3 separate regions of the Homo sapiens genome follow, and all the other regions are linked to region 1. Evidence: fine-mapped expression QTL. A gene starts in region 1. Each other region holds a variant in brackets. All regions are shown on one strand. Distances are from middle to middle. Region 1 holds the start of CCDC167 (coiled-coil domain containing 167). Region 2 has its middle 2.3 kb from the start of MIR4462. Region 3 overlaps RNF8 (ring finger protein 8).

Region 1 (4,232 bases):
AGAGGCTGTGTCGGGGGAAGGTGGGGGTGAACACTTGAATGGGAGGTGGAGGTTGCAGAGCCAAGAGTGCACCACTACACTCCAGCCTGGGCGAGAGTGAGATTCTGTCTCAAAAGCAAAACACAGCGAAATACCAATAAAAAACATGAGAATGAAAAAAACAAAACAAAACAAAAACAGGGCACTAAATAGAACACAATAAGGACCCTTGTTTACAGTAGGACAGCTGAAACAAGGCAGGGCATCATCACCTGTTCAACTTTAGCTGAGAACATGGACTGCGAGCGACTCAATTTTTTTCCCACTGCTTTGCATTTGCCACAAAAGCACTGTGAGTACTGATTTTGGGGTTACAAATACATTTTAGCCATTAGGGAAATTCGCAAATGTGGAATCTGTGAATAATGAGGATCAACTGTAGTTGCAACCCAGACCATTTGGCTCTCTAGAAGAGACCATGTCTCTTCTAAAATAGTTACTATCTGACCATTTGCAGACATCTCCTGCCCCTTGCTCTAGCCTGTTAGAAAAAAACTCACTTTCTTGTTCTTGAAGCCACTGAGTTTTGGAGTTTCTCTGTTACTGCAGCTTATTGTACCCTAATGCAGGTTACAAAGTCTATGTTCTTCCCGCCACAAAGTACCATCTCAGTCACCACTCATAAACCATCCTCTTCACATTTCCATCAACCTTTTTCCTACCAAGTGGGCCAATATTTCTCAAGGGATGCCACTAAAACTACCCACATCACCATGGGGTGTGTGTGGCTTGTAAAAAAAAAAAAAATGCAGATTCTGGCCGGCTGTGGTGGCTCATGCCTGTAATCCCAGCACTTTGGGAGGCTAAGGCGGGCGGGCAGATCACTTGAGGTCAAGAGTTCAAGACCAGCCTGGCCAACACGGTGAAACCCCGTCTCTACAAAAATACAAAAATTAGCCAGGCATGGTGGCACGTGCCTGTAATCCCAGCTACTCGGGAGGCTGAGGCACGAGAATCGCTTGAACCCAGAAGGCAGAGTTTACAGTGAGCCGAGATCACGCCACTGCACTTCAGCCTGGACAACAGAGCGAGACTCTGTCTTAAAAAAAAAAAAGCAGATTCCTTGTTAAGAATGCACATCAAAGTCCTACTGAATTACTCGGGGTGTGGGAAGAGTTCAACTCTCCATTTTTAACAAGCCCTGTGACTCTATGCATGCTAAAGTTTGAGAATCACTGAACTCACTAGTAAGCCTGAAGAAGACTATGACCCTGTACCTCTCCTGCAACCTCCGGGAGGATGCCCTAAGGGAAGGAAAACAGGGGAAGCAAGATGAATTTCCAGGAAGACCACCTGTGCTTGATTCCCAGGCTCCACCACTTCCACCATCTCAGCCTGGGTTCCACCTGGAACCTCAATTTCCTCATCTGTACAAACCTCACAGGCTTGCAGTGAGGATTAACAATGCAATGAAAGTAGCACATAGCGGTTGCTCAGTATGTATGTTTTCTTTCCCTTCTATATGCAGCAAATTATTTTTAAGCCATTCAGTGACATCACCAATTCCAGAATTCTCTTTACATATTCCCAAAGTAATTTTGAAGGTACAAGCTTCCATACTCCGGAGGAAAAATTTCCCCTTTTAGAGGATATTTAAACCATTAATAATATACACCAGAATGGGCTCCCTCATCTTTGAGTCCTAGCCCTTTGGGAGTTCTCCTTAGATTCTACAGGTCCCTATTTCTCTGGGGTCTCCCTCACCTCTGTACCCATCCCTTTTGTTCTGTGTCCCCCGCTTTGAGTTCCCTCACTTCTATGCCAGGCCGTCTTTGGGGCTCCCCTTCACTTCCATGTCTCTTCCTCTCTGGAGATGCCCTCTCCAGAGAGTCTGGTTCGCCCATCCGGCACCTCCTCGGGCTCCCTGTCCTCCGGGAACCCCGTGGGCCTTCTCACCCCTCCCGTCCCTCTCCCCAAACCGCGTCGCCCTCTCATCCTACGCTTGGCTCCTCCTCCTATCTATAGCCCAGCCTATCCCTTATCCCGCGGCCAGGAGAAGGCAACTAACGAGGTGGCCCAACCCCCACTTTTCCCCTCACCTCTAGAGCGACGCCCAGATTCTCCCGCTTCTTTTTAGTCATGTTACTTGCCGGGATCCCCCAGTCATCACTGGACGCGCCCACCAAGTCGCTATGTGCGCATGCTCAAGTCTTCGTGCTTCTCCCTCATTGGCCACCGAGTCAGCGGGAGGTGGGGCTGCTGCCGTCGCCATCTTGTTGAGGGGCGCGGCCGGCTTGGTGCGGACATGTTTATGAGGGGCAACCTCTAGCTTGAGACCTCAGCCTAGATGGGTGGAGGGTGGAAAAGTCGGTACAGGGAGGCAGAATGTACAGCCCGGGAGTAGACCTGCCCCTTTCTTCCCCAGTTTTAAGCCGCTTTGCATCACTGAGAGCCTTTTTTAACCCCATGTTCTCTTTCAGTGTGTTTTGTGTTTCAGCAACAACCCCGTCCCTGTTTAGGCCACGCCCCCCATTCAAAGTCTGTCCATCCTTCAAGGCCGGTGCTGGAGCCTTGAGCTTCTCGGCCAATGGAATCTGATAATGGCCCTCTATTGTTATTTCTCCTTTGTGTCTTGACTTCTTTTTTTTTTTTTTTTTGGTTTGTTTTATTGTAAGAACAACCTACAAACATCACAGAAAACATATAACTGAGAAGCAGCATCCTTTATTCTACCAACTTTATCAGTTCCTCTTTGCTTCTGTTTATTCCTCCCAGGCTTGGCCTCACACACAGTATTTTACATTGTTGTAATCGTACTATACTGTACACCATAGACCCACGGCCTTTGAAATGTTTTGACTGTGACCCTACGATAAAAAAATGTATTTTATACCATGGCCCAGTTACCCATGAAACCAAAACCAAAGTTTCACAGTAAGTACCTTTACCTCCTGTAATGCACTCTGTTATTTTGTATTCTTGCCTATTTAATTAAAAAAAAACAAAGTCGGGCACGGTGGCTCAGGCCTGTAATCCTGTGTCTGGAGTTGGTTCCTTCAGGTGGGTTCTTGGTCTCACTGACTTCACGGTGAGTGTTACAGCTCTTAAAGGTAGCACGGACCCAGAGAGTGAGCAGCAGCAGGATTTATTGTGAAGAGCAAAAGAACAAAGCTCCCACATCATGGAAGGGGACCTGAGTGGGTTGCCACTGTTGACTGGGGGATGGCCAGCTTTTATTCCCTTATTTGTCCCCTGTTACAGAGCACTGACTGGTCCATTTTACAGAGTGCTGATTGGTGCATTTACAGTCCTTTAGCTAGACACAGAGTGCTGATTGGTGCATTTTTACAGAGTGCAGATTGGTGCATTTACAATCCTTTAGCTAGACACAGAGCGCTGATTGGTGCGTTTTTACAGAGCACTGACTGGTGCATTTACAATCCCTAGGTAGACACAGAGTGCTTATTGGTGCATTATAATCCTTTAGCTAGACACAGAGCGCTGATTGGTGGGTTTTTACAGAGTGCTGATTGGCGCATTTACAATCCTTTAGCTAGACACAGAACGCTGATTGGTGCGTTTACAATTGTCTAGCTAGACAGAAAAGTTCTCCAAGTCCCCACTCAACCCAGGAAGTCCAGCTGGCTTTACCTCTCAATCCCAGCACTTTGGGAGGCTGGGCAGATCACGAGGTCAGTAATTTGAGACCAGCCTGGCCAACGTGGTGAAAGCCCGTCTCTACTAAAAATACAAAAATTAGCTGGGCGTGGTGGTGGGCGCCTGTAAACCCAACTACTCGGGAGGCTGAAGCAGGAGAAACACTTGAAACTGGAAGGCGGAGGTTGCAGTGAGCCGAGATCGTGCCACTGCACTCCAGCATGGGTGAAAGAGCGAAACTCCATCTCAAAAAAATAAACAAAAACAAGTTGGTGGCAGGACACCTCTTAGGTTTATTTCATGACCCCTTAATGGAGGTTGAACTGCAATTTGAAAAACACTGCCAAGTATGTTTTTCTGTGTCTTTGAAATTATCACTTGCGGTGGCCTCATGTGCCACCAAGGGAGTCTCTCGCATTCTTGCATTGGACATCATTTTATTGACAGTAACTCCAAATATTGCGAAAGCAAACCTTTTCGTGCACACAGCTCTGTCCTCTGGATTCTTTCTTTAAGATAAATTCACAGAAGTAGAATTACTAGGTCAAAGAGTATGAGACCAGAATCAAAGCTCCTTATTTCCTGACCAGTTATCT
Region 2 (4,232 bases), 53 kb after region 1:
GCCCGGAGGGGTGCAAAGCAAAGGCAAAACTCAGCCCGGAGCCACTTCCCCAAGAGCACACAGCAGCAAGCTAGGAGGCCGTGTGGGACAGTGCCCTGCATGGGGAACAGCCACTTCCCCTCTATGGGTCTCAGTTTCCTCACCTGTAGAATGGGTGAAGGGGTTGGTTGGACTTGAAGGGCTCTAAGGCACTGCTGGTTCCATATTTGAGTGGTAGAGCCTGAACTTAAATAACAGAGATTTGTCATGGTAGAAGGAGCCATAAAGCTCAGCCCATTGAAACTGCTGGTCCCAGAGCTCTGCACACTCCACAGACCCACTGTGTTTGGCTTGCAGAGCATTTTTAGAATTTACATTTGAATTTGTTTACACAGGCTGCTGTCTCCGGGTTCCACAGCTGGCTCTGCTCCCTAAAGCCTCACACCAGGTCTCCTTACACCCTTCGCACCCTTATCTCCTTGGTCCCTGATCTGGTTCAAAACTCCTCATTGCTCAGAAACTAATAATTGTTATTGTTATGGAGCTCTTCCTGTGGGTCAGACGCTGTTCTAAGCCCATTCATATGATCTGACTCATCTAACCCTCATAGCATGCCTCTATGCAGGTATCATTATGAGCCCATTTTACAGATGAGGAACACAAGGCTCGGGGCAGTTAAGCAATTTGCCTAACACCCTAGGGCAGGACCAAGGCCAGAGAAGGAGCATAATTTACCAAATTGGCAAAATAGATTATCCTGATTCACTGTGCAGTGCTCTGTGCATAAAACAGCCTCAGCCAGGGCAGGCATTTTTGGGGGGCTCCCTCTGGCCCTGCCCTTTGGGGTATGGTAGAAGGAAGGAGAAGAAAAGTTGTGTCCCCCAGTTCCACACTCTTTCCACCAGACAATAACCACCCTCTACCCCGCCCAGTCTCTCTGGGAGTCCGATATCCTAGCGGCTGCAGAGGATCAAAACAGCGAGTTAAAAGCGAAAACCCGCAGCATTTTCTTCACATTTCCCTCTGCCTCTTGAGGAAGAAGGCGCAAGTGTTTGCAGGAGCTTTCAAGTTCTCAGGAACAGAAATGAAATGCTCTCATGGCTCTTCCTCTACGTTTGAGGCCCTCGGTGCAAAGTGCTATTATTAGCATTGCCTTCAACTATCTTCCAAACAGGCTTCCCCTGGAAGAAGTAATTAAATGCATTATTCTATGCAAAATAAAAGCACGTATCCACATTTGCAGCCTCTGACACCATCCCAAACATTTTGTGATTTTTACAGTTGGGAGGCTTTTCGGTTGCATCCCATCCAAAGAGGGCAATTCGCCCTGGCACAGGGCCCACGGAGGGTAGAGGGCAGGCCCTGGTGAGAGCCTAGCAGTTGGATGAGGTGGTTTGTTTATGAATTTTGAGGCTGGAGATTGGGGCCATGTGAGAAATGGAAGGATTGAAGTATCTGAGCCAGGCAGGGCTGAGCCAAATCCCTTCAGACCAGATGGAGAATGAGGATTGGAGGGGTTGGCCACCAGCCCCCAGGTGACCCAGCCTTGGGAGATGCCCTGTCTCCTCTGAGCTGGGCGATTCCTAGCAAGAAGCCTCCTGTCTGAATCTTGCCTACTGGAGCCAGAAACTGACCTCTCTTCCCTCCCTCCCTCCATCCCTCCCTCCCTCCCTCCCTCCCTTCCTTCCTTCCTTCCTTTCTGACAGAGTTTCACTCTTGTTGCCCAGGCTGGAGTGCAATGGCACGATCTCGGCTCACGGCAACTTCCACCTCCAAGGTTCAAGTGATTCTCCTGCCTCAGCCTCCCGAGTAGCTGGGATTACAGGCATGCGCCACTATGCCCGGCTAATTTTTGTATTTTTAGTAGAGATGGGGTTTCTCCATGTTGGTCAGGGTGGTCTCAAACTCCCAACTTCGGGTGATCCACCTGCCTCGGCCTCCCAAAGTGCTGGGATTACAGGCGTGAGCCACTGTGCCCGGCCTGAACTCCTTTCTTAATTCCTCCCTCTCCTTTAGCCTCCATAGCAAATCTGTTTCCTAGCCTTGCTTGTTTGATTTACTCAACAGTTTCAAATGCATCTGCTTTTCTCCCTGGACGCCAGGGCCTTAGTGTGGTCCCACTGTAACAGGAGAGCAGTGGCTAAGGGCACAAGGCTGT[G/A]GGGTAGGAGCTGGGGTCTGAATCTTGGCTTTACTGTTACTTGCACTGTGACCTTGGACTAGGGTTGCTAGATTCAGGAAGTCAAAAATATAAGATGCCCATTTGAATTTAATATGCAGTGTTTGGGATATATTTATGCTTTAAAAAATTCCTTGCTTATCTGAAATTCAAATGTAACTGCTCATTCTGTATTTTATCTGGCAACCCTACCTTGGACAAATTCTTTAACTTCTCAGTTCCCATGTCTATAAAATAGGGATAATAATAGCACCTACTTCAAAGGTGGTTCTGAGGGTTAAATGAGTTAAAAATATAAAATGCTTAGAACAGGATGATAATGACCATCTCACTTAATTAGTGTATTAAGAAGTGCTTCATACTTGAAAAATGCCTTGCAAATGCTATTGATGTGTTATTTTTGCTGTATCTTTCCTCTCCCCTGACTTCATCAGAGGCAGCAAACCAGCAAAGTGTGGGTGAGGGAGAAAGAGGTTAGACCTAAGGGGAATTTCCTGGCAGGAAGGATCAGTCACATCCCTCCTGCACAGGAGCCCCAAAACTTGAAGATGCTGCAGCTGGTGACATGTGGGCTGGGGAGATGGGTGGCAGGGCTGTAGCATGCAGACAGTGACAAGCTCTCTAGGACAATGAGAATGAATGAACTGTGACTACCCGAGCCACAGAGATGAGTCACACAAACACCTCCAGGCTGGCTGAAAGAAGCCAGATACGAAAGAATGCGTACATGGGACTCTATTTTTTTTTTTTTTTTTCGCTCTGTCTCCCAGGCTGGAGTTCAATGGTGCAATCTCGGCTCACTGCAACCTCCGCCTCCTGGGTTCAAGCGATTCTCCTGCCTCAGCCTCACGAGTAGCTGGGACTACAGGTGCGTGCCACCACACCTGGCTAATTTTTGTATTTTTAGTAGAGACGGGGTTTCACTGTGTTGGTGAGGCTGGTCTCAAACTCCTGACCTCGTGATCCACCCACCTTGGCCCCCTAAAGTGTTGGGATTACAGGCATGAGCCACCGCATCCTGCAGGACTCTATTTATATAAAGTTCAGAAACAGGGAAAACTGAAGCACGTTGTTGAGGGAACACACAGAGAAAGGTAGGAAGCGACTGCCTGGGACCTCTGGGGAAGAGAAGGTCAACGGGAAGGGATCCGCAAGCTGCTGGGTGCTGGTGAGGTTCTGGTCTGTGACTGAGGTGGTGGCTACTCTGCTTTGAAATAATGTGTTAATGAAACATTTGTTTCATGCCCTTTTCTGGACGTGAGATTTATTCCACAATGCTAAAAGGTTACAGGAGAGGGAAGAGGGTCACGCTTGGGAAGCACCTAAAGCTCACTTTCTTCCTGGAAGGCACCTGAAGTTCTACCTTCTTCTAGAGAAGGGCCTCCAGGGAAGAGGTGGAAGCCGACCTTTCCGTGCCCCCAAAGTTAGAAAATGAAGCTAGACAGCGGGGCAGCCTGCGTGATGCCGGCCTGAGTCAGACTCATTAAGATTCCTTCTCAATCTACCCTGGGGTCCACAGGGCAAAGAGAAACCTGTGAACCATGCAGGCAACTGGGTTGAGAGAGAAAGATTGGCAGGGAGGGGGGAGAGAGGTGGAGGTGGGGAGGAAGACAGGTGGGGTGGCGGGGAGATGGAATGGGGAAGAGAGAGGGGGAGAGAGGCTGAGGACCCCAGGCCAGTGCGCCAGGTCTGGATTCTTTAGCCAGTCCATTCTAATGACAGCTCTTCAGTGCGCCCCTCCCTGCTTCCCCCCAGGAGCAAGGATAATTACTGGAGATAATGATCACTTAGGGGGCAGGGGGCACTTTTCATTAACCCCAGACCTGGTATCCAACTGCCCTTCCCGAGGAGTCTGCCCCTCACCCCATCCTGCAGGGCCCACTCCTGCTAGCCCCCACCTTGGGCCGTGCCACTGGCAAGTCCCTGTGCCTGTCTTCACCTTAATTCCTGGGTGAGTGACATTTAAGGGCAAGCTCTTCATTGGGCCATAACAATTTACAAGCCAGGCAGTGGTGGGTTGTTCTGAGGCCCGCGGGGAGCGGTGGCCCTTTATCATCTGCCGGGGCGAGGGGGCCAA
Region 3 (4,232 bases), 140 kb before region 1:
ACTTTAGACAGAGGTAATCAGAGTAGGCTTATGAGTAGCTGGAACATGAAAGATAAGGAGCCTGTGCAAGATCTGAGAGAAGAGTGTTCTTAGCAGAGGGGCTAAGTGAAAAGACCCTCAGGTAGGCTGGCACTTCGGGGAGATGGGCTTAAGGAACAACAACAACAAAAAAGTTTGAGGGGCTGGAGCAGCTAGTGTTGGCACTATGGTATGAGTTAAGACTAAAGAGTAGAAGGGCTCAGGACATTCAGGGTCTTATAGGCCATGGAAGGAAGTTTGAATGATTGGACAGTTTTAAGGAAAGAAGGAAAATGACCTGATTTAAAATTTTTACATTTCTATTCCAGTTACTATTATAAAGCTTATGGGGGCTAGAGTGAGAACAGAAACAGTAGGAGGCCAGGTGGTTTGGACTAAGGCTGTGGCTGCAGAGATAGGAATGAACAGACTTAGGACATATTTGAATTATAGCCCATATAATTTACCAGTGATTTCAATGTGGGGATGAGGGACAGAGATGAATCAAAGATGGCTTCTGGGTTATGGGTTGAGTAGTTGGTTGGATAGTATTGTGAATACTGAGATAAGAGTTTGTGGGGAGGAATAGATTAGGTCAGTGAGTCGTGGTGGTCTTTGAGGGACTGAGGAGGACAGGCATTCTGAAAGATTTTAAAGAGAAGAGAAGAGGGCAGTTTTAGCTAACTTTGGTTTAAAGTTCCCAGTTAAGGTTGTGATATGGGACATTAAAGAGGTCGTTTGTGCACTAAGAAGAATATGCAGGGAGCCGGGCGCGGTGGCTCACACCTGTAATCCCAGCACTGTGGGAGGCTGAGGCAGGCAGATCACTTGAGATCAGGAGTTCGAGACCAGCCTGACCAACATGGTGAAACCCCGTCTCTACTAAAAATACAAAAATTAGTTGGGTGTGGTGGTGCGTGCCTGTAATCCCAGCTACGTGGAAGCTGAGGCAGGAGAATTGCTTGAACCCGGGAGGCAGAGGTTGCAGTGAGCTAAGATCGTGCCACTGCACTCCAGCCTGGGTGATAAAGCAAGACTCTCTCAAAAAAACAAAAAAAAATTAACAAACAAAAAAGAATAAGGGAATTCTGTGATCTGGAACTCAGAAGAATTTCATTTCCTTCCTTCACAGGGTTGTTATGAACTAGACTGGTCCAACAGGAAAGTATGATAGATGTGAACTGGGGCTTCTTTTCAACCTTTTCCGGAAGCTCTCAAGCTGTTCTTGTGGATAAGACAGAGAATATGTACTCCAATGCAAAGACTTTTGGTTGAATTATAACTGGCTGAAGGTATATCCAGATGGTGTGGGTTAATGTTTACTAGGTTTTCCTGAAAACTTTGCCTTTGGCTGCATCCCATTCTGTGTCTTGAACGAAGGTATAGAAGGCATCATCTCATAAATTTGGTGGAAGAGATATTAAGTATGTCTGATCTGATGGCAGATTAAAAATTCAGAAAGGTCTTGACAAATTGGTTTGATAGGCTGAACTAGCAAGATGAAATTTAATAGGAATCAATCTAAGGTCCTGCGCTTGAATCCAAGGTTTTCCATCCAGTCAAGTATAGAGCAGAAGAGACAGGACTTAGGATAGCATTTCTTGGAGGAGGGGGAGACCAAGAAATTTAATCATTCCTAAGTTCGAGGATACACTGGCAGTGTACTAGATCTGCTATGAAAGCTAATGCAATTTATATGCTCCAGTGATAATATCTAGAACTGGGAAAGTAACACTTGCGTTTGACTGTGTAATAGAAATTAAGTTTATTTTTCTTAATATGCCATCCAGGAATAAAGATAAACCAGCAGTCCCTTCACAGACTCATTAGAATGGCAAAGGCTCAAGCCCATCCCCTGGGAGTTAAGTTGAAGTAACTGGGAATACAGAACCAGGAAAAGAGAAAACTCAGTGTTCACTTTATATCTGTGCCATTGAAAGGGGATTGGAGATTTCCCGATGGTGCCCAGGGCAAAGCCAGGGCCAATGGATGGAATTTACAAGGAGAAAAATGCCAAGTCAGAGACATTTTAAAAATTGGAGGGCCTGCCTTATGTAAAGTTACTGACAGTATTTATGCGTTGATGGGATGTGTAGAAAGAATTCCTCTATCTCATAGTCATTGAACCAGATGACCTTTCAAGATCTTGGCAACCCTGAGATACATGGATAACTCTTTTTCAGCTTTCTCTTGTTGTCACAACCGTTTGCCTTTTTCTACTTGGTGGTTCTCAAGACAGCTGAAGAGGAGATAGCTGATGCACTGTTTTGGTTCCACAGGTGTCTGGTTTCTTAAGTCAGGACCTGCATATGCTGCTGGTTGATGAGATTTGTAAAGGACCTCCCTTTTCAGCACAATGACTGATGGTATTTCTTGCATTGTTGTTGT[C/CT]TCCCAGGTGACTGTAGGACGAGGATTTGGTGTCACATACCAACTGGTATCAAAAATCTGCCCCCTGATGATTTCTCGAAACCACTGTGTTTTGAAGCAGAATCCTGAGGGCCAATGGACAATTATGGACAACAAGGTACAGGAATTCACAGAAGCCTAATGACTTTTATTTGTTTTTAAATTACTTTTTTTTTTTTTTGCATAGGTAATTCATGGTATAAAATTCAAAAGTATAACTTCTTCTTTCCTAGCCATCCAGTTCCCTTTTCCAGAGGCAGCCACTTCCATATGCTGCCAGAGATTCGATTATGCTAAAATAATTTCTCTTGATTTGGGTTAAAGTTTGTTAACTTGAAGAGAATACCTGAATTGGGGTAGTAGGTCCTATTCCAGAAACTAGACTAAGTTACTGGGCAAATAAGCCTGTTTGAGGTGAAGCTCCCAGAGACCCTGGGAATCTGCAGAATCTGCTGACGCTTCTGGAGTACACTTATGGCTCAGTGGACAAGGGGAGGAGGGAGAAACTGATCTGATTGCGCTTAGCTCCTTTCCTTCCTCACTCCTTTCAATCTGAGCAACCTCCCCTGGCCTTTAAAACATGTTTTAAATATTGGTGTTCCGAAGATTTCCTTTGAATAATGGGTTTTTCTCCTTTAAACAAATTTGAAAACCACTAGTTTAGTGGTAAATATATTGAGGGAGGTGCAATAGTATATGAAGCCCAGCAATTAGAAAGTACCTAATGTGCTGGGTGTGGTGGCACATGCCTGTAGTCCCAACTACTGGAGAAGCTGAGGCCAGAGGATTGTTTGAGCCCATGAATTCTGGGTTATAGTGTGCTATGCCATTCTGGTGTCTGCCTTAAGTTCGGCATCAATATGGTGTCCTCCTGGGAGCAGGGGACCACCAGTTTGTCTAAGGAGAGGTGAACTGACCCAGGTTGGAAGGAGGGCAGGTCAAAACTGCTGTGCTCATCAACAAAGGGATTGCACCTGTGAATAGCCACTGCACTCCAGTGTGGCTGACATAGTGAAGCCCTGTCGCTATCAAAAAGAAAAGAAGATACCTAAAGTGCAGATATACAAGCACCGAGGAATGTGATGAAAATACAGACTATGAGGTGAGAGAAATTCTAACATAAACAGTTAATGTTTAGGAAGTATAACATGTCTTTAAGTGCCATTTCATATTGCTTCACTGCCCCAGTTAGGATTTTAAAGGTACCATTAGAAGGGAGGGTATCCCACAGGTCTGCCTGCCATCCTCATATTGCGTGCATAAAACTGCTAGATTTAAGCTGTTGGAAAGTATCTTCCTGCTCTAGAATTAAGTTGAGTTGGCACTGTATTGAAGGAGACAGTACATAAATGCTAAGTAAATCAGTTCAGCACTTTTAGCAAGGCACCATGAGCAGGATAAAAATTGGCACTGAGATTATCTACTTTAACCCCTTATGTAGACAGATGAATCTGAGGCCCAGAGAGATAAACTGTCTTGCCCAAAGCCTTCTCTATAATGAGCCAGGACTTAAGTTTCTCTGCTATGCCCTGTGTCAAGTATCAGTAAAGTATGTAAGCAATTTGCTATACTGGCTTTATGACGTCAAACAATTAATTATGCATATTTAAAATATAGCTGCAAGGTTTTAAAGCCTCTGTAATAGCGTATATCAAAACAGCTTAGGAAAAGATGTTTTCCTCATCAGAGTAGGCTGTATGAGAGTTAGGATTACAATATTATAGAGGTGAGTTCTCTGCTGCTGCTTTTCTTAATTATGTGCAGTGTAGATGTGATCCACTTATGGGATTAGCAGATTTTCATAGGTT

The links. PIP is the estimated chance that this variant, and not a neighbour inherited with it, causes the effect.
Region 2: its variant is the best candidate, but not a certain one, in a credible set for the expression of CCDC167 in whole blood (INTERVAL, PIP 0.69).
Region 3: its variant is the best candidate, but not a certain one, in a credible set for the expression of CCDC167 in whole blood (TOPMed, PIP 0.72).

Annotation. Positions count from the first base shown.
Region 1 is chr6:37,497,744-37,501,975 of GRCh38, forward strand. CCDC167 (coiled-coil domain containing 167) reads right to left here and starts at 2,150. Exons shown (of 4, transcript NM_138493.3): 1 at 2,079-2,150. The coding sequence starts at 2,120. RefSeq lists an enhancer at 2,143-2,342.
Region 2 is chr6:37,551,055-37,555,286 of GRCh38, forward strand. No RefSeq gene overlaps it. Among named protein-coding and RNA genes, the nearest start is that of MIR4462, 2.3 kb to the right of the region's middle. RefSeq lists enhancers at 76-255, 2,828-3,328 and a silencer at 2,679-2,973. The variant G/A (reference allele first, on the strand shown) is at 2,138.
Region 3 is chr6:37,358,033-37,362,264 of GRCh38, forward strand. It overlaps RNF8 (ring finger protein 8), which reads left to right. Exons shown (of 8, transcript NM_003958.4): 2 at 2,414-2,542. It also overlaps the pseudogene RN7SL273P. Among named protein-coding and RNA genes, the nearest start is that of RNF8, 6.2 kb to the left of the region's middle. The variant C/CT (reference allele first, on the strand shown) is at 2,407.